2 separate regions of the Homo sapiens genome follow, and region 2 is linked to region 1. The links come from fine-mapping of genetic effects on gene expression. A gene starts in region 1. The other region holds a variant in brackets. All regions are shown on one strand. Distances are from middle to middle. Region 1 holds the start of COG4 (component of oligomeric golgi complex 4). Region 2 overlaps FCSK (fucose kinase).

Region 1 (12,441 bases):
TGAAGGGTGAATCTCATTTCCAAGTCCTTTTTTCCTTCCACTATGTTCTCCTTAGACTTTAACAATGCTTCATTTTGCACTTATGTTGCATGATTGTTATCTTACGTATATCTTATTCCACCTGGCAGATGAGCACCATAATAGGAAGAAATAAACTTTTAATCAGTATCATTAGCATAGTGCCTAATACAGGAAGGCATTTAAAATACAATGCCTGGCCAGCACTGGATCCCAAAGTAATCCCAGCTCTTTGGGAGGCCCAGGTGGGTGGATCACCTGAGGTCAGGAGTTCATGACCAGCCTGGCCACATGGTGAAACCCCATCTCTACTAAAAATACAAAATTAGGCTGGGCGCGGCGGCTTACGTCGGTAATCCCAGCACTTTGGGAGGCCAAGGCAGGCGGATCACGAGGTCAGGAGATCGAAACCATCCTGGATAACACGGTGAAACCCTGTCTCTACTAAAAATATAAAAATACAAAAAATTAGCCGGGTGTGGTGGCGGGCGCCTGTAGCCCAAGCTGCTCAGGAGGCTGAGGCAGGAGAATGACATGAACCCGGGGGGTGGGGGGGGGGGGGGGCGGAGCTTGCAGTGAGCCGAGATCATGCCACTGCACTCCAGCTTGGGCAACAAAGTGAGACTCCGTCTCAAAAACAAAAAACAAAAAACAAAATTAGCTGGGTGTGGTGGCGGGGGCCTGTAATCCCAGCTACACAGGAGGCTGAGGTAGGAGAATCACTTGAACCCGGGAAGTGGAGGTTGCAGTGAGCCGAGATCGTGCCATTTCACTCCAACCTGGGTAACAAGAGTGAAACGCTGTCTCAAAAAAAAAAAAAAGAAAATACAATGCCTAAACAAAAAACACCACACACATCTTGCTGAAATGAAATTTCCAGTGACAGTTACCAAAATTTTTCTTCTTGGTGCATAGTCAGTAGCCAGGGGTTATAAATATAATTATCTCTCATTCAAGCCATTTATTGTGCAACCTCAATTTATGTAACATTTTTATGCTTCGGTTTTTTCATCTGTAAAACTAGGATAGCAATACCAATCTCACTGGGCTGTTGAATGAGTCAAACAGGAAACCACACAAAGTGCTTAACATGGTATGTGGCATATAGTTCAACAACAGCCATTAAAATTAACCATACATTTTTATTTTTTGCGGGGGCTCAAGTGCTCTTCCTACCCCAGCCCCCCAAATATCTGTGACTATAGGCGTGCACAACCCTGGTCCACTGTTTAATTTTTTTGTAGCCACGAGGTCTCACTATATTGCCCAGGCTGGTCCCCAACTATCTGCTATTGCCCAGGCTGGTCTCCAACTATAGCTCAAGCTATCTGCCCATCTCAGCCTCCCAAAGAACTGCGATTAGAGGCATGAGCCACTTGTGCCCAGGCAGCTATACTTTTTTTTTTTTTTGAGACGAGTTTCGCTCTTTCACCCAGGCTGGAGTGAAGTGGCCTGATCTTGGCTCACTGCAACCTCCCTGCCCTGGGGTTCAAGCGATTTTCATGCCTCTGCCTCCCAATTAGCTGGGATTATAGACGCCCACCATCACACCCGGCTAACTTTTGCATTTTTAGTAGAGACTAACATGGTTTCGCCACGTTGGCCAGGTTGGTCTCGAACTCCTGACCTCGGGTGATCCACCCGCCTCGGCCTCCCAAACTGCTGGTATTACAGGCATGAGACACCAAGCCCGGCCATATACATTTTTATTAAAATCGTTCTGTAGGTTCCAGAGGAAAACGTCCTCTTGACAGTCATGGAATACAAATACAGTACTTATATCATTTTGTCTGTAAGATTTCCATAATTTTCCACCCAACATATTAAATGACTGAATGAATGCGAGCTTAGGAATGTTAAGTCAAGATACTAAATTTTTTTTTTTTTTTTTTTTGAGACAGAGTCTCACTCTGTCGCCGAGGCTGGAGTGCAGTGGTGCGATCTCGGCTCACTGCAAGCTCCTTCTCCCTGGTTCACGCCATTCTCCTGCCTCAGCCTCCCGAGTAGCTGGGACTACAGGCGCCCGCCACCACGCCCGGCTAATTTTTTGTATTTTTAGTAGAGACGGGGTTTCACTGTGTTAGCCAGGATGGTCTCGATTTCCTGACCTCGTGATCCATCTGCCTCAGCCTCCCAAAGTGCTGGGGTTACAGGAGTGAGCCACCGCGCCAGGCTTTTTTTTTTTTTAAGAGACACAATTTTGCTCTTGTTGCCCAGGCTAGAGTGTAATGGCGCTATCTTGGTTCACTGCAACCTCCGCCTCCCAGGTTCAAGCAATTCTCCTGCCTCAGCCTCCCGAGTAGCTGGGATTACAGGCATGCGTCACCACACCCGGCTAGTTTTGTATTTTTAGTAGTGATGGTTTTCACCATTTTGGTCATGCTGGTCTCGAACTCCTGACTCAGGTGATCCTCCCGTCTTGGCCTCCCAAAGTGCTGGGATGGCAGGCGTGAGCCACCGCGCCCCGCAAGATACTAAATTTTAAAACACATCTTGCTGAGGCCAGACAAAAAAAGCCCCACACACTAAACTAGCCAGGCACGGTGGTGTGCGCCTCTGGTTTCATCCATTCTGATTGCAGCACAACAGCACTCCAGCCTGCGCAACAGAGAGCGGCCCTGTTTCTAAAAATAACAAAACAAAACAAAAAACACCACACACATCTTGCTGAAAAACGTATCAGAAACTGCTAGAGTTAGTGCAAGTTTATACTTGAAAATACTCAAAGATATCAACGATCACCTCTCCCTCAGGCTGAAACTGCCTTTTGTGCTCAACTTTGCTAGAAGTTTGGTCTGGGAAACAGCTGACAAGCTTAGAGCTTAGATCTCTTTTGACTAGCAAGGAACCCAACTGACATTCGAAAGTGAATTGACAGCATCGAGTTGCCACTGAAAATTAAAGGAGGCAGGAAATAGAACGTTATGAACTGAAAGGAATTGGAGAATAGTCCACACCCCTCATTTGATAAAATATCAAGGGTACCAGAGATGAAGTGACTTGTCCAAGATTAGAGAATTGTGTCTGAGTCTTAAAAGCTAAACCTCTACAAAGATGTGCATTTGACCAAAACGCTAAAATCACACCCCCAAATCACTCCCCACAAGAGGAAGTCTTAAAACGCTTCAAGAAGTTAATCTGCAAAGGCTTCCCTCTTAAATAACAGGATGAGAGCGTTTCATAATTTGTAAATTAAGCCAATGCAAAAGGGCGCTTATTATTTTGAGAACCAAGCAATTTGGCAAATACTCTCAGACTAACTTTACTCCCGTGGAGAAACTGGTGATCATGGATCAGGGAAATCAACGGGGGTCTAGGGAGGAGAGGCTGCAGATCGCCCAGGTATCAGGGAAGACAAGCTCGGCGCGTCCGACAGCGTGAAAAGAGTTGACAGGACTACTCATATACCCGACTAGCTTCCGCTTCTTTGTTTTCCCGCTTTTTTGTATCCCCCAGCAAGGAGAGTTTCCCACAGCCCGGATTTCCCGACTGAAGGCTCCCACTCTCCCTAGATCCTCCATGAAAAAGAAGAGGCTCGACCCCGCACCTCCTCGCCGCAGAGCCGTTCGTATACAGCCTCCAGCTCCTGCAGCTCTGTCAGGGAGCGAATGAGCTCAGCGGAGATTTCGGAGCAGCGGCCACCTCCCACCCCCTCAGACGGCTGCTGCACCCCTGACAGCTTCGGAGGCGAATCAAGGTCCGCCATCTTGGTCCCCATTCGGCACTTCCGGTCCCGCGAGGCCCCCTCTTCGTTGGCGCCTATTTGGGGCTGCCCACAGAAGTGCCCAATGAACTCTAATGGTTTTTTTTTTTTAAAGTCTACTTCTAAAAACGTATTAATTTTCTATTCTCCTGGAAAAAGCAAAGCAATAAAGCATGTTTAAATAATTTGTAATGCCGTGTGGAAGCAAGACGGAAGCATTTTTTAAAAATTATATATATTCTTCAGGCGCGGATTGGGTGCCTTTTTCCGCCGCGCGCCACCAGAATGTCCCTGTCTTGAGGTCTAATGGCGGACGCCAGTATGTTGGAGTTGGTGGTGGCTTAAGTTTTGAAGGGAGGTAGCATCCGTTGGATATCCACACCATCCTTCTCGCTGCAGGGTAAAAAAACAGCCTGGAGACTTCCCCGGGCCCGGGGAGGCGGAGACCGGCCATATGGAAGGGGGACCCGAGACTTTGGCGGGGGTCACGGGCAGTCTAGGCCCGAGAGGCTGGGGACCAGGAGGAGGTACCGAGGGATGGTTGAGGCGCCAAAACGGCTTCCTGCAGTTATCTCTCGCTTCCATCCACAGTGTGGGAACATATTCTATCTCAAAATAGGGCTCGTGGAGATTGCTTTTAACTTCTGGGGACTCTGAGACGGGGGAGGTGTGACAAGCAGCGGGAGGCATGGATGTCTCCCTCTGGGTAGAGTAAATGGTACACCGAGGGGAAGATAGAAAGATGGAGCGTGTTAAAAGCGTAAATAACGGAAACAGTCTTTAGAGCCAAGACTCCGGTTTGAATTTGTATTTTGGTAGTTGGGCAACTTGTCTCCTCCTCTGAACCTCTATTTTCTCGTTTGCGTAATGGAGGACAGAGTTTAAATGCGATGATGTTTCCTTGGAGGATGGAGAAGATGCAGTGAGCAATCATACAAGCTTTTTGTAATAATGGTAAACAGACGTGGGGGAAGTTTTTTTTGTTTTGTTTTGTTTTGTTTTTGTGACGGAGTCACAGTCTGTCGCCCAGACTGGAGAGCAGTGGCGCGATCTCGGCTCACTGCCATCTCTGCCTCCCGGGTTCCAGCGATTCTCTTACCTCAGCCTCCCGAGTAGACTAGCTGGGATTACGGGCGCGTGCCACCACGCCCGGCTAATTTTTCTTTTTTTGAGACGGTGTCTCGCTTTGTCGCCCAGGCTGGAGTGCAGTGGCGCGATCTCTGCTCACTGCAAGCTCCGCTTTCCGGGTTCACGCCATTCTCCTGCCTCAGCCTCACGAGTAGCTGGAACTACAGGCGCCCGCCACCGCGCCCAGCTAATTTTTTGTATTTTTAGTAGAGACGGGGTTTCACTGTGTTAGCCAGGATGGTCTCGATCTCCTGACCTTGATCCACCCGCCTTGGCCTCCCAAAGTGTTGGGATTACAGGTGTGAGACACCGCGCCCGGCCCAGACGTGGGGGAAGTTTTAAAGCTTACCAAATTTATCTGGTATGTATTTTTTGTTTGTTTGTTTTGTTTTTGAGACGAAGTCTCGCTGTCGCCCAGGCTGGAGCGCAGCGGCTTGATCTCGGCTTACTGCAGCCTCCTCCTCCTTGGTTCTAGCTATTCTCACGCCTCAGCTTCCCGAGTAGCTGAGATTAAAGGCGTGTGCCACCGCGCCCGGCTAGTTTTTGCATTTTTAGTAGAGGGGTTTTCACTGTGTTGGCCAGGCTGGTCTCAATTCCTGACCTCAAGTGACCCATTTGCCTCGGCCTCCCAAAGTGCTGGGATTACAGGCGTGAGCCACCACTGCGCCTGGCCTCGTATATAGTTTTTCTAGTACTGGACTGATCCTCCGAAATGCACCTTCCTCCACGATCCAAAGTTAAGGTGTCGCTGGAGAACCTGAATCCAACTAGATTTGGGAAAAAATGAATTCCAAAGGTTTGTAATGGATTGTATCAGTTATAAGGAAAGGGGAAAGTAGACTGTTTTGATCAGCTACAAAATATGAAAAGTAACTTGCGGGGAGCTGTTCAGGGATTCAGAAGCAGCTCCTAGCTTCCTCTCTTTTGCTTTTTTTGTTGTTTCTCCACTCCCTGGTCTTTCAACATCGGTCCTTTTCGTTCATGTTTTACTGTGGTCCTAGAACGTTAAACATATACCTTAGTCTATGGGCTGGGCGCGGTGGCTCAACGCCTGTAATCCTAGCACTTTGGGAGGCGGAGGCGGGCGGATCACGAAGTCAGGAGATCGAGACCATCCTGGCTAACATGGTGAAACCCCACTAAAAATACAAAAAATTAGCCGGGTGTGGTGGCGGGCGCCTGTTGTCCCAGCTACTCGGGAGCCTGAGGCAGGAGAATGGTGTGAACCCAGGAGGCGGAGCTTGCAGTAAGCCAAGATGGCGCCACTGCACTCCAGCCTGGGCGACAGATTGAGACGCCTCAAAAAAAAAAAAAAAAAAAAAAAGGAAAAAAAAAAGATATACCTTAGTCTCAAGTAGAAAATTTTATATCTCTCAGGACCCATTTCTAGCCTGGAGCATTGATCTTGCCACCCTGCTTTTGCTCAGCCCAGAAAGTTATTTATGAGGACGTTTACTCATAATTCTCTCTTCTCGTTTAACAATAAAATCAAATATGTATGTTAATTCTATACTAATGACCTTGGATTTCTCAAGGTCCCGTGCTTTTTATTTATTTATTTTTTTTTTTGAGATGAGGTCTCATTCTGTCGCCCAGCCTGGAGTGCAGTGGCATGATGTTGGCTCACCACAACCTCCGCCTCCCAGGTTCAAGCGATTCTCCTGCCTCAGCCTCCCGAGTAGCTGGGACTACAGGCGCACAGCACCATGCCCAGCTAATTTTTGTATTTTTAGTAGAGACGGGGTTTCACTGTGTTGCCCAAGCTGGTCTCGAACTCCTGACCTCGTGAGCCACCACGCCCGGTCACATATGTTGTTTCTTAATAGGGCTTGCTCTGCTGGTTCTGCTGTCTTCATCCAGAATTTCCCATACAGAAATGTCTGTTGAAGTAATAGTCTCCCAGCTATTTTTCTGTTTTCTGTTTTCTTAGCTTTCTTGGACTCCGTACTGTTGGTGTAACCAAGGCCTGGAGGTCTGGGTGGCTCAGGTTTCCTGCAGCCATGTTTCTGTACAACTTAACCTTGCAGAGAGCCACTGGCATCAGCTTTGCCATTCATGGAAACTTTTCTGGTAAGTTCTCTCGTTACCATCTTTTGAAATTTTAAGTGAATTAATACATATCTTGCTTAGTCTCTTGTGCAGGAAATGTTTTCCATTTATGACAAAACAGTTGTTGGTAAATGTAAACAATTCAAATTATGAGATGAGGTGTTAAGTTCTGGTGCATTATCTGTTACCTATTTCAGATGCATTTCCTAGTTCACAAATTGTGTAATGATTCTTGTCAGGGCACACTTTTCTTGGCTGCTTACCTAGTGCCAAGTCGTGTGCCTATTGCTGTAAGACATACTGAGATGTGTAAGACCTGATCTTTGATCTTGAATTTGACATCAGGTTGGGTAAAAAGAATGTCTGAAGGTGTTTGTCTGGTTATCAGAGAGTAATTTAAATAAAGGGAAGGTTGGACCTTGGTTTGGTGCTTGAAGAGATAGAACTTTTGTATGAGAGAAAAGGGAAAATGCAGTTTAGGTAGGGAGTGCTGTCTGCATAGAAACAGATAATTTGCTTACGTTTACCATGTGGGGAATATTTTTGTAAAGATGGATTAAGGCTAGGTTTGAATTGTGTGAAATTTCAAATATTGGATTAGGAAATACAAAGTTACTGAAAGTGAGGTACTAATGTTTATAAAATAAAAACTTTTTCTTGCCATTTGCAGATTTAACATTTTTGAGTCAATCCAAGTAATGCAGGAGGTTCATGATTGTGTAGAGTAAGACATAATTTTGTTGAGGTTTAACTCTGAATACTTAATGTGGTACTGAATACTTAATGTGGTACTGAGAGGCAGCCTAACTGACCACACAGCATTCATATTTCATGTTGTTATTTTCTCTGATCCTCATTATGGCTCTTCCTGCGGGTTTGAGTCTTCATTTGGGTAATTTAGTTATTCTTTGCTGCATTTGATTAAGGAAATACGTATATGGGAATTTGGAGATTTGTGACTGACTTCACTATGTAATGCAATGAATCTCAGCTGGAGTTTGGATAGAATTTTTGAAAGCACGTTTTTGTTTTTTGTTTGTTTTGTTTTTGTTTTTTGTTTGTTTTGTTTTTGTTTTTGTTTTTTCCTTGAAACAGAGTCCTGCTCTGTCACCCAGGCTGGAGCGCAGTGGTGTGATCTTGGCTCACTGCCACCTCCGCCTCCTGGGTTCAAGCGATTCTCCTGCCTCAGCCTCCTGAGTAGCTGGGATTACATGCGTGCACCACCATGCCCGGCTAATTTTTCATATTTTTAGTAGAGATGAGGTTTCACCATATTGGCCAGGCTGATCTCGAATTCCTGACCTCGTGATCCACCCACCTTAGCCTCCCAAAGTGCTGGGATTACAGGCATGAGCTACTGTGCCCTGCTGAAAGCACATTTTTAATACTAATTTTATCTTTCAAATTCCTTTTCCAATTCAGTCTTCCTTTTTATCTAAAATGATGGAGAAGTTTTCTTTTTTTTTTTTTTTTTTTTGAGACGTAGTCTTGCTGTGTTGCCCAGGCTGGAGTACAGTAGTGCGACCTCGGCTCACTGCAAACTCCGTCTCCCAGGTTCAAGCGATTCTCCTGTGTCAGCCTCTGGAGTAGCTGGGATTATAGGCACGTGCCACCACACCTGGCTAATTTTTGTATTTTTAGTAGAGATGGGATCCCACCATGTTGGCCAGGCTGGTTTCAAACTCCTGACCTCAAGTGATCTGCCTGCCTCAGCCTCCCAAAGTGCTGGGATAACAGGTGTGAGCCACTGTGCGTGGCCTTTTTTTTTTTTTTTTTTTTTTTTAGAGACGATATCTTGCTGCGTTTCCCAGGATGGAGTGCAATGGCAGGATTATAACCCACTACATTCTCTGAACTCCTGGGTTCAAACTGTCCTCCCACGTAGCTGGGACTAGAGGCACAGGCCATCACACCTGACTAATTTTTTTTTGAGACGGAGTTTTGCTCTGTTGCCCAGGCCGGAGTGCAGTGGCACAGTCTTGGCTCACAGCAACCTCTACCTCCTGGGTTCAAGCGATTCTCCTGCCTTAGCCTCCCGAGTAGCTGGGATTACAGGCATGTGCCACCACGCCTGGCTAATTTTTGTATTTTTAGTAGAGACGGGGTTTCACCATGGTGGCCAGGCTGGGTTCTGGTTGTTTATGATCTTTATTTTTTGGTGATCTAGGAACCAAACAACAAGAAATTGTTGTTTCCCGTGGGAAGATCTTGGAGCTGCTTCGCCCAGACCCCAACACTGGCAAAGTACATACCCTACTCACTGTGGAAGTATTCGGTGTTATCCGGTCACTCATGGCCTTTAGGCTGACAGGTGGCACCAAAGACTACATTGTAGTTGGCAGTGACTCTGGTCGAATTGTTATTTTGGAATACCAGCCATCTAAGAATATGTTTGAGAAGATTCACCAAGAAACCTTTGGCAAGAGTGGATGCCGTCGCATCGTTCCTGGCCAGTTCTTAGCTGTGGATCCCAAAGGGCGAGCCGTTATGATTAGTAAGTGATTTACTCTACTTGCTGTATATGCCTAGTTTAGGATAACAATGCTGTGCTCTTGGTGGTGTGCCAGTGCCAATTAATTACTTATGTGGGTTTGGCATCATGTTTGGATTTACTCTAGGTTTAAAGTTGCATTTCCTTTTTAAAAGAGTTGCATTTTCTTTTAAAACAATGGGAAAAATCTTAACACACCTTTCTACTTCCCATCTAGTTGGAAATGGGTGTTTTTCAATTTCTTTTTCTTTGGCAAAAAGACTACAATGAAATGATCTTATGTTATTAGACAGTGAATATCGTTGCTTTCATCAGCCTGAAGTGATGATTCACATTCATGTCTCTTCTCTGATAAATTCTTGAAGAAAATTTTTGTGTGTCTGATCAGGCCTCTAGAGGGCAGTCATAAATCGTTAGATCTATTTCAGAGAATAAGGCTAATGATAATTTTATGAATTACTGTTTTTCAGTATCCTTAAATGTAGGACTCATTAAAAAATTTTGACTAGTTAGTGGGATATTTAAGACCTGTATTAGGAAGAAGGGGGCCACAATGATGCCATTGTCTTTAAAAAAATTTATTTATTTATTTTTAAGAGATGGGGGTCTCAGCCGGGCACGGTGGCTATTTATCTTTAAAAGAGATGGGGTCTCAGCCAGGTGCGGTGGCTCACACCTGTAATCCCAGCACTTTGGGAGGCCAAGGTGGGAGGATCACTTGAGGTCAGGAGTTTGAGACCAGCCTGGCCAACATGGTGAAACCCAGTCTCTACCAAAAATACAAAAAATTAGCTGGGTGTGGTGGTGGGTGCCTGTAATCCCAGCTACTTGGGGCAGGAGAATCGCTTGAACCCGGGAGGCAAAGGTTGCAGTGAGCCGAGATAGCGCTACTGCACTCCAGCCCGGACGACAGAGTGAGACTGCATCTCAAAAATAAATAAATAAATAAATAAATAAATAAATAAATAAATAAATAAGAGAGAGATGGGGATCTCACAATGCTGCCCAGGATGGTCTTGAATTCCTGGGCTCAAGCAATCCTTCCTTCTGTCTTGGCCTCCCAAAGTGCTGGGATTACAGACTTGAGCCACTGTGCCCAGCTCCACTATTGTCTATTCTTTTTTTTTTTTTTTTTCAAATGAGGCAGAGTTTCGCACTTGTTGCCCAGGCTGGAGTGCAGTGGTGCGATCTCAGCTCACTGCAACCTTTGCGTCTCAGGTTCAAGCAATTCTCCTGCCCCAGCCTCCCAAGTAGCTGGGATTAGAGGCATGCACCACCACACCTAGCTAATTTTTTGTATTTAGTAGAGACAAGGTTTTACTGTGTTAGTCAGGCTGGTCTTGAACTCCTGACCTCAGGTGATCCACCCACCTCAGCCTCCCAAAGTGCTATTCTGATGATAGAAAACAGAATCCTGAGTTTTTATACTTGTAGAGTTACTGCTGTTAATAATGATTAAAAGAAAAGCATGATGTGACTCTAGCTGTTCTATAAGTCTCTCTTCTCATTATCTGGGAATCTTGTATGTTTTATCTCCTTCAACTACAGGTGCCATTGAGAAACAGAAATTGGTGTATATTTTGAACAGAGATGCTGCAGCCCGACTTACCATTTCATCTCCCCTGGAAGCCCACAAAGCAAACACTTTAGTGTATCATGTAGTTGGAGTAGATGTCGGATTTGAAAATCCAATGTTTGCTTGTCTGGAAATGGATTATGAGGTAATGGGGACCCTGTCTCTTTGCGTTTCTTTCAGTCACCTCAGTGTTTTTTTTTAAGATTGTTTTCCGGCCGGGCGTGGTGGCTCACGCCTGTAATCCCAGCACTTTGGGAGGCAAGGCTGGCGGATCATGAGGTCAGGAGATCGAGACCATTCTGGCTAACACAGTGAAACCCCATCTCTACTAAAAATACAAAAAGAAAATAGCCGGGCATCGTGGCGGGCGCCTGTGGTCCAGCTACTCGGGAAGCTGAGGCAGGAGAATGGCGTGAACCCGGGAGGTGGAGCTTGCAGTGAGCCGAGATCTCGCCACTGCACTCCAGCCTGGGCGACAGAGTGAGACTCCATCTCAAAAAAAAACGAAAAGATCGTTTTCTTCCTTGTGCATACCTTTTTTTCTTTTTTTTGAGACAGTCTTGCTCTGTTGCCCAGGCTGGGGTGCAGTGGCACAATCTCAGCTCGCTGCAACCTCTGCCTCAGCCTCCTGAGTAGCTGGGACTACAGGTGCTGCCACAACGCCCAGCTAATTTTTGTATTTTTAGTAGAGATGGGGTTTCACTATGTTGGCCAGGCTGGTCTTCTGACCCCAGGTGATTGGCCCACCTCAGCCTTCCAGAGTGCTGGGATTATAAGGCCTGAGCCACCTCACCCAGGCCCAGCCCCTTATGCATATCTTAATTCTGTCCTGCTAGCAGATCTTCATATTCCAAATGCCTTACTGAAATTCTTTGGGATGCTTCAGAGGTTAAGCAACTATTTAATAGTCTTTCTCTGATTTAAGTAATCTCCCTATGGAAACAAGATATTTATTGGGAAAAGCTTCATGAAAAACTTGAAGCTATGTTTAAGGTATTTTTTCACAGAACATACTATTGTTTTCCTTTAACGGAAGGCAGTATCCTCTAGTAGAGAGCTCCCTGGATCCAGAATTTGGAGATTGCAGTTCTCGTTCTAGCTCTGCCATTATCTTATAGCATAAACTTTGTCAAACTATTTGGCGTCAGCCAGGTGTGGTGGCATGTGCCTATAGTCCTAGCTGCTTGGGAGCCTGAGGCCCAGGAATTCTAGGCTGCAGTGAGATAAGATTGTACCACTGCAGTCGTGTACAGTGGCTCACGCCTGTAATCCAAGTTTGGGAGGCCGAGGCGGGCAGATCACCTGAGGTCAGGAGTTCGAGACCAGCCTGACCAACATGGAGAAACCCCATCTCTACTAAAAATACAAAATTAGCCAGGCGTGGTGGCACATGCTTGTAATCCCAGCAACTCGGGAGGCTGAGGCAGGAGAATCACTTGAACCTGGGAGGTGGAGGTTGTGGTGAGCTGAGATCGT
Region 2 (8,516 bases), 45 kb before region 1:
AGCCCAACAATGACTATGATCTAATGAATGTCACCAGCGCCAGGCTTCTCACTCCTCCTGGCCACCGAGCCCCCTGGAACCCATGGCCAGTGTAGAGCAGCTACAGCTTGTCTGGTTTCAGGTCCACCTCAGGGTGTCAGGTCCCGTCTCCAGCACACCCCTGGAAAGAAACTGCTGCAAAGGCCTACTGAAGCCTGACTGTGGTGTTTTCTGTCACTCTGCAGCTCAAGCCTCACATTTCACTGTAGTGACTCATATCCCATAATCGGTAGTCATTAGCAAAAGGAGCAGATGGGGAAGCATTTTCAGTTTTCTTTTGAGGTGTACCATTCAAGTTCTACATTTGGCCAACGGAAAACTATTTGTTGAGAACCCACTCTGTGGGGCCCCAGGGATAAAATGAGCAAAAATGGGGTCCCTGCCCTCAAAAGTCCTGTGGTCTCCTGGAGACAGACATTAATCAATAACTACTCAGGTGCATGTGTATTACAAACTGTGCCAAGTGCTTTGAAGCAGAGGGGCACAGTTAAGTCTTGACATTTCAAGACTTAGCCACTTTGCAACTACCAGGTTTTGGCTGCAAAGTTCCAGATGGCTTCTGTCTTTTGCATTTCATACTTTAAACCCTTGCAGGCCCTTCCCTAACTATCAAGGGCCTGTCCCAGAAGCAACTCAAGTTTTGTTATTTTTAATTTTTTTTTATTTTTGAGATGGAGTCTAGCTCTGTCACCCAGATTGGAGTGCAGTGGTGCGATCTCAGCCCACTGCAACCTCTACCTCCCGGGTTCAAGAGATTCTCCTGCCTCAGCCTCCCAGGTAGCTGGGATTACAGGTGCCTGCCACCATGCCCAGCTAATTTTTTGTATTTTTAGTAGAGATGGGGTTTCACTGTGTTGGCCAGGCTCGTCTTGAACTCCTGACCTCATGATCCGCCTGCCTTGGCCTCCCAAAGTGCTGGGATTACAAGCGTGAGCCACCATGCCCGGACTAGTTTTGTTATTTTTATGCAGCTACAAGGAGGAAAATGATACATACCTTTCATTACTGAAGATGGAAAGATGTGTAAGTTAGATAAGAGAAAAACAGATCCTGATGACCTTCCTTCCAACATAAACCACCTGTCAGAAGACGGTGCAGGGAGACTCAGGCCAAAGGGAAGGTATCTGTCAGCCTCTCCTCTGACTAAAACTCCCCTAGGAGGGGCAGAGGTCAGTGTAAAATATGTATTTTTTGAGACAGAGTCTCACATTGTCACCCAGGCTGGAGTGCAGTGGTGCGATCTCAGCTCACTGCAACCTTTGCCTCAGCCTCCCTAGAAGCTGGGATTACAGGGCATGCACCACCATGCCTGGCTAATTTTTGTATTTTTGGTAGAGACTAGATTTCACCATGTTGGCCAGGTTGGTCTCAAACTCCTGACCTCAAATGATCTGCCCGCCTTAGCCTCCCAAAGTGCTGTGATTACAGGCGTGTGCCACCGTGCCCGGCCATAGTGTAAAATCTTTATTCTTCAGTGTGGTTTATCCCAATTCCAATTATACATTAGGTCTAAAACAAAACTCAGGCCTTGGGAATTCCAAGCTTTGCCCTAGAGTGAAGCCCATTCCCTTGCTGGGATTGTTCTGGGGACAGAAGCTGCATAGCTCACTGTCCTGTGGAGTTGAGGGAAGCTATCTTTCCACACTGGTCCCAGCAAGGGGTGCAGGGCCGGGAGCCTAGGCTGGGAGAGTGAAGCTGGGCCAGATAGACTCCAACAGTGACAGTCCCTGGGCTCACAGGAGGTGGCTGGCAGGACCAAGTAGGTGGCCTAATGCCTGGCATCAAGGTGGGGCGCTCCCGGGCTCAGCTGCCACTGAAGGTGGAGGTAGAAGAGGTCACGGTGCCTGAGGGCTTTGTCCAGAAGCTCAATGACCACCTGCTCTTGGTGTACACTGGCAAGACCCGCCTGGCTCGGAACCTGCTGCAGGTGAGCTCTGGCCCCAGCATGAGGGAGGCAGGCAGGGGGCCTGCCAGCTGGGCCTGGGTCCTCACCACCCCTTCTCCTGCCCCGTCCGCAGGATGTGCTGAGGAGCTGGTATGCCCGACTTCCTGCTGTGGTGCAGAATGCCCACAGCCTGGTACGGCAAACTGAGGAGTGTGCTGAAGGCTTCCGCCAAGGTGAGGGGCTTCCTCTGGGGGGGTCAGGGCACTGGGAGCGAGTATTCTGTCACTTGTGGGTTTGAGGCCAGGGTCATCTGCAGGCTTGGCACAAGCTCCAGATATTCGGCCTCTGGGAACAGAAGCCTACTGTCTGTCCTCTCCAGGGTCTCACATTTAGGGGAGAGCTACATCTGAGGACAAAATTTTCATCATGGGAAAGGCCCTCCAGCCCTAACAGGAAGCAGAGAGGGGAAGGGACTCAACCCATGGCTGAGTTCCAAGGAAGTCTGAGCTGGGCAGGGTCCCCAGTGTGTGGCTTCACAGCTCCCTAGATGCCGACTATGCTGGGTGTGGTGTTGGTTGCTTCCTGCACATTGGTCCTCAGGCAGTCCTGGGAAGTGGGTTACTCCTGGCTCCAGCCGGCACTGGAATCCGGCTTCTTTACCATGACACTGGCTCAGCAGCACGTCTTGGCACTTCATGCAATCTCCAGATGGGTGCTGAGTATCTTGGCCCAGGCACGTCACTCCCCTCTGCCCCACCTCAGGAAGCCTGCCTCTGCTGGGCCAGTGCCTGACCTCGTACTGGGAGCAGAAGAAGCTCATGGCTCCAGGCTGTGAGCCCCTGACTGTGCGGCGTATGATGGATGTCCTGGCCCCCCACGTGCATGGCCAGAGCCTGGCTGGGGCAGGCGGTGGAGGCTTTCTCTATCTGTTGACCAAGGAGCCACAGCAAAAGGAGGCCTTGGAGGCGGTGCTGGCCAAGACCGAGGTACTGATGGGGCTGGGGTTGGTAAAGAGACCTCTGGGGGCAAGAGACCTCACTGTGGCCCACCAGTTAACCAGGGGCTATATCTGTAAGTCCCCCTGGTCCTGCAGGCCCAGTCCAGCCTCCAGAAGGCCTGAGATTTGTCCAGAGCCTTCTAAATACTTCCTGTCTTGTCCAGGGCCTTGGGAATTACAGCATCCACCTGGTTGAAGTGGACACTCAGGGCCTGAGCCTGAAGCTGCTGGGGACCGAGGCCTCAACCTGTTGCCCTTTCCCATGAAGCTGGCTTCTCTCTGCAACAGGAGAAAACCTGGAGCTACAGTGTCCCCCACCTTCCTTGCCCCATGGGAACCTCCACCTCCTACTCCCCACCCACCTCTGCGAATCTGCTCCCAAAGGAAGCTGACCAGAGCAAGATCTGGGCAAGCAGAGAGTGCCTGGGACAGGACTGTGACCTGGTGGACAGGGGCCTAGATGTAGCCTCTGTTCCTCCTGGACATAGGAAGGTCCCAAGCTTAGTATCCCACGTGGCCTTTACAAATCCTATGGCTGGCCTTCTCATTCCACAAGGGCCCTGGAAAGGGTTGACAGCCAGCCTTGGCATATGGCTGGGAGTCCCTTAGCAAGGCCAACCCTGAAGAGGCCCTTTGAGGCATTCCCTATGGCTTAGAGTTGTAGACTTACACTCAACCCTCATGTGAGCGTGGGAGTGAGGGTGGCGGTCCCTTGCCAAGTTGGTAGCAGTGACCCAGTGATTCACTGCCATCCCAGGCCTTAACTAGCAAAACTACGGAGCGTGCCAAGTGACCTGGTGCCTGTGGGAAGTGGGTTCTCAGGACTGGCATTCTTGGAATAAATTCACTCTGTCCTTGCAGGTGGTCCTCGTAAAGTCACTTTTGCTCCTGCTGGGAGCAGTTCCCACTTCTCTACACCATGGGGAACTGGCCCTGGGGTGATCCAGCTTGTGGTGCTGGGGGCCCAAGAGGGGCACGAGGGTCTGGGACTGGATGGGGGCTCCTGCCATCATGTGGGCCCCGGACACAGCTGTGTGCTGCACTGTGTGTGGGAGCAGGCTGAGGTCTTGGGTTTTACCTTCCTATTTCAGTGCAACTGATAGACCTGCCCTGCCCCATAGCATCTGGCCCTCCCTGGTAACAGCACACTGGCATCTCTCCAAGGAGTAGCTTTATTCAGGGATCATAAACATCACAGCCTCTCCTCAAAGTCAAGCCTAACTGCTAGGTCCCCAGATGTACCCAAGTTGTCTAGGACTGGCAGGGGTAGCTT[G/A]TTTGCTGTAGTGTTTGAGGGCAAGAGACTGACCATCCATGCAGAAAGCTGGCCTGGGCTGCTCGCTGCCTGCCGTGGCTTTCCCACCTCATTAGGAGCCCGCTTCTCTCGGTGGGGAGATGCTGCCCCCAGAGCATCACCTGGCCAGGTCTGAGGGCAGAGCATGGAGTGGGTCCAGACTTTGTTTCTCTGCTGCCAGCCGTAGAAAGGTCTGGGCTGTCAGATCTCCCCCAAGCCAGACAGCCTCGCTCAGCTCCTTGGCTGGGGCCCCTTAGGGAACAGGCCTGCAAGTGTGATGAGCCAGGTGTGCTCATCCAGGCAGCTACAGGCGCAGCCTCTTGATATCTTCACTGCGGAAGTCTATCCGCAGGGCCAGCACCTGGCGCACTTCAGCAGGGGTGAGGCGCCACGTCAATGGGCCGGAATTGGGTCCCCAGTAATCGAGGATCTCGGTCACCTGTGGGGAAGGACATAGAGACCAGTCAGCAAGGTGGGGTTATTCTGAAAGAGGGCTCTGGCCTCTACCAGGGGCAGAGCAGGGGCACCCGGGAAGGGGAAGGTGTCCTATAGAGCTGGCTGCTGGCAGACATGGTTTAGAGGGAAGTGGCGGGGATCCATCTTTGCCTCTTTCAGTCACCCCTCCCTGGCTGGGCCAAGGGTGCCCCACCTACCCGCTCCAGATTGAGGATGGTGGCCATCTGGGAGAGCCGGGCAAACTTGTCTCGGATGGTCCAGGTGGTCACCGTGGTAAGGTAGGCAATGAGCGACCTCAGCTCCTTGTCAAACTGCAGACCACCCAGCTGCAGGAGAACCCAAGCCCAGTCACTACTTAGGCCTGGCCAAGCAGAACTGGCCTCCAGTTGCCCCCAGAGCTGGGTGGCAAGGCCCGCCAGGCCTCAGGTGGTGCCCTGTGGTTTGTTTGCTCTACGGCTTCAGAAGCCAGAGCAGGACTGGACCCAGACATGCAGGGCCTGTGGGCAGCAGACAGAGGGGATGCAAGTCCTGGGGGTGGTGGCATGACATGTCTTCCTCAGAGGAGAAACGAGAGCCGCAGACCCATGACCCCTTTACCTTACCCGGTTAAAGGTGGATTTCAGCACCACTTTCTCCAACTCGACGGCAACAAGGCTAGTCATGAGGCCGGTTAGGCTGTCGTAGATGACCGGGGACAGGCTGGCCTGCACACAGAGGGTTGACATCAGCCGAGCCCCACCTAACTCCTCTGCCTCTATGCTGGAGTCTTAGGTGGTGAGGATAGTAGCGTGAGGCCACGGGGGAGTTTCTACAGGTGAGGGTTGGAAGGGCTTTCAGGGTCCCCAGAAGGAATGTGATGAGACCCTGCAGGCTGCTGGTTTGGGCTGACGTGGGTAATTCCCTAAGTGGATCCCTAGGGCCCCTGCTCACCTTGAACTCTGCCATTTGCTGCTCCAGGTTAAGGATGAACTGTTGTACCCAAGGGTCGTTGGCCTCATAGTCATTGAATTCTTCCTGTTGTCAGGAAGCAGGGCTGGTCACCATGGGCCTCATAAGAAGTACCATTCATTGCCACCCACCTCTATCCCTCTAAGAAAATAATGTAAAACATTCTTCCTTCCCTGTGCCTTCTGACTCATCTAGTTTAAAACCAGCTCAGACACCCAGGCTGGCAGAAACTGACCAGCAAACAGCCCAGGGCTGTAGCAGTGGCCCACATAACATGGTAAAGTTCCTGGCATTTTATTCCTTCTTGGATCTCTTGTTCTACAGGAATGAAATCACTACGCCAGGAGGAAAAAAACGCTTCTAAGTCTATCATAGGCGGGGCAAAAAGAGCTCCAATAAGGGAATAAGTTAGGTCAAGGCAAACTCCATGTCTTTCTGAGCCCTTCTGACTAGGGACAAACTGTTTCCTGGGAGGAACCTAGTCTTCATGGGTCAGGGTGGGGGAAGTGGGCCTGGGAAGCATGGAAGGTCTAGTCTGTTCAGATGGCTCTGCTCCCTCTAGCTGGGGCTAGGGATGAGGGGTCATCGGGGCTTGATGGCTGCCTGTGGCCAGGCTAACCTCCTCGATGTTGTGGGAGACGGAGAAAAAGCTGTTGATCCAAGGCTGCACCTGTGGCTTGATGGCTGTGCTGTTGAGCTCCGTCAGCCCTTCCTGCACAAGGACAAGGTGGAGACATGTGACACAGAAGGCACGACTCATCCCTTCCCTCTCTCTTCTCCCCATCCCTTCCCTCTATCCTCTCCCCATCCCTTTCCTCTCCTCTCCCCATCCCTTCCTTCTCTCCTCTCCCCATTTCTTCCTTCTCTCCTCTCCCCACCCCTTCCCTCTCCTCTCCCTACCCCTTCCCTCTCCTCTCCCCACCCCTTCCCTCTCCTCTCCCCACTCCTTCCCTCTCTTCTCCCCACCCCATCCCTCTTTTCTCCCTACCCCATCCCTCTCTCCTCTCCCCACCACATCCCTCTCTCGTCTCCCCACCCCTTCCCTCTCTCCTCTCCCCACCCCTTCCCTCTCTCCTCTCCCCACCCCATCCCTCTCATCTCCCCACCCCTTCCCTCTCTCCTCTCCCCACCGCATCCCCTTCTCCTCTCCCCATCCCTTCCTTCTCTCCTCTCCCCACCCCATCCTCCTCTCCTCTCCCCATCCCTTCCCTCTCTCCTCTCCCCATCCCTTGACTGCAGGGCGTTCTTCCAGCCCTGAGGCTTTCTGCAGGCCCTGTTGGAGGTTATAACAGAGCTAGTGCTAATGAAAGGAGGAGCCAGGAACATGCCCCTTTCCAGATCTCAGCTGATTCAGGTCCAGGGTAACGATGAGGCCTTGAGACTGTTCTGATAAACTCTCACAAGAGATTTCAGAATGCTCAATGTTAGGCAGCACCTGCGGCTAGGTCAGAACAACCATGTGGCTCCACTTCCTCTGAGCATCTTCTGAGAGCTCTTGTCATTGTGGGGCCAAGTGCAAAGTCTAGAGCACCAGATGTTGGCTTGTCAGTGTGACAACTTCACTGCTGAGAAACCAACAGGGCCTTTAGTCTCAAGGGACCTGCACAACTCCAGGCTCCAGGGCTTGCGTGCTGCTCCCTCACCCGTCCTCCTGGCTTCCTTGCACACGATGAGCCAGCTAACAATCTTCTCAGAGCAACACACAGGCACAGGATTCAGTCAGCAGTTGAACCTGGGGCTTACCTGCAAGAGGTCTCGGAATTTGTTGGACACGGCGGCCAAGTCAGAAAGGCAGCTGTCAAACTTGGCCTGGGCCTGCTCCCCTCCAATGCCCTGGCTGAAGAGCTTGGTGCAGTCACTCTAGGGGAGAACACTGCTGTAAGACCACCGAGCACGCGTGGGCCATGGGAGTGTGAGGAGCCACCAGCCAGTTCTACTCCTCCAGCCAGCTATGGCCTGTCAAGAGCCCGGATGGGTTTCAGAAAACCTGGATTCTATCCTGGTGGTTATCCACTTGGCTCCCACTTCCCCCTCTGTAATATGGGGGTACCAATGTCGGGGAAGTGAGTAAGAAACAGAAATACCAGAAAGTTTTTCCTGTCTTTAGAGTCAGACATTCCTAGGTTCAAGTCCTGGCTCAGTCATGTATTAGTTGAGTGACCTTGGGCAAATGATTTAAAGTTTCTGAGCTTCAATTTTCCTGTCTATAAAATGGGAACACCAATTCCTGCTCCTCATGTATGAGATGAAGCACAACGTGCCTAGCTCAATGCCTGGCACAGGAGACACTAGCTATTATTGCTATAGTTCCTCCTTTCCCCCCCTTTTATATTTATTTACTTCTTCTTAAATTTTATTTAAATTTACCAAAAAACCACAAAAGTCAGTTTCTGCTTCTTAAATATTTTGGTATGGCTACCAAAGGGGATGGTCAAGATCATAGCTAAGGTTTAAGGGCGTACTGTATACCTGGCTTTGTTCTAAGCATTTCACTTTTATTAAAGTACCAGGCTGGGCGAGGTGGCTCATGCGGGTAATTCTAGCACTTTGGGAGGCCAAGGTGCAAGGACCACTTGCGGCCAGAGTTTAAGAACAGCAGGGAAACATAGTGAGAAGCCGTCTCCACAGAAAATTAAAGAATTAGCTGGATGTAGTGGTGCGCCCCTGCATCCCTAGCTACTCAGGAGGCTGAGGCGAGAGGATCCCTTGAGCCCAAGGGTTCAAGGTTGCAGAGAGCTATGACTGCCACTGCACTCCAGCCCGGGCAGCAGAGTGAGAACAAAGTACCTATTCTACTTAAAAACAAAACAAAATGAAAACCAAAAAACCCCCACAACTATTGTAAGTTACTTTGACCTTCATAAAAAAAAGTATCTCCTTTATGAAATAGGTAAAATTAT

What was found. PIP is the estimated chance that this variant, and not a neighbour inherited with it, causes the effect.
Region 2: its variant is fine-mapped to the expression of COG4 in blood mononuclear cells (TOPMed, PIP above 0.99).

Annotation. Positions count from the first base shown.
Region 1 is chr16:70,519,808-70,532,248 of GRCh38, forward strand. COG4 (component of oligomeric golgi complex 4) reads right to left here and starts at 3,747. Exons shown (of 19, transcript NM_015386.3): 1 at 3,566-3,747. The coding sequence starts at 3,736. It overlaps SF3B3 (splicing factor 3b subunit 3), which reads left to right and starts at 4,009. Exons shown (of 26, transcript NM_012426.5): 1 at 4,009-4,121; 2 at 6,780-6,919; 3 at 9,066-9,392; 4 at 10,938-11,110. The coding sequence starts at 6,850. SNORD111B (small nucleolar RNA, C/D box 111B) reads left to right here and starts at 9,692; the gene lies at 9,692-9,792. RefSeq lists enhancers at 3,380-3,519, 4,553-5,290.
Region 2 is chr16:70,476,494-70,485,009 of GRCh38, forward strand. FCSK (fucose kinase) reads left to right here. Exons shown (of 24, transcript NM_145059.3): 21 at 1,779-1,966; 22 at 2,058-2,157; 23 at 2,687-2,910; 24 at 3,086-3,781. The coding sequence ends at 3,187. COG4 (component of oligomeric golgi complex 4) reads right to left here. Exons shown (of 19, transcript NM_015386.3): 14 at 7,360-7,476; 15 at 6,236-6,328; 16 at 5,599-5,682; 17 at 5,271-5,372; 18 at 4,866-4,994; 19 at 4,078-4,651. The coding sequence ends at 4,517. Among named protein-coding and RNA genes, the nearest start is that of FCSK, 26 kb to the left of the region's middle. RefSeq lists enhancers at 202-471, 612-781 and a silencer at 2,413-2,707. The variant G/A (reference allele first, on the strand shown) is at 4,195.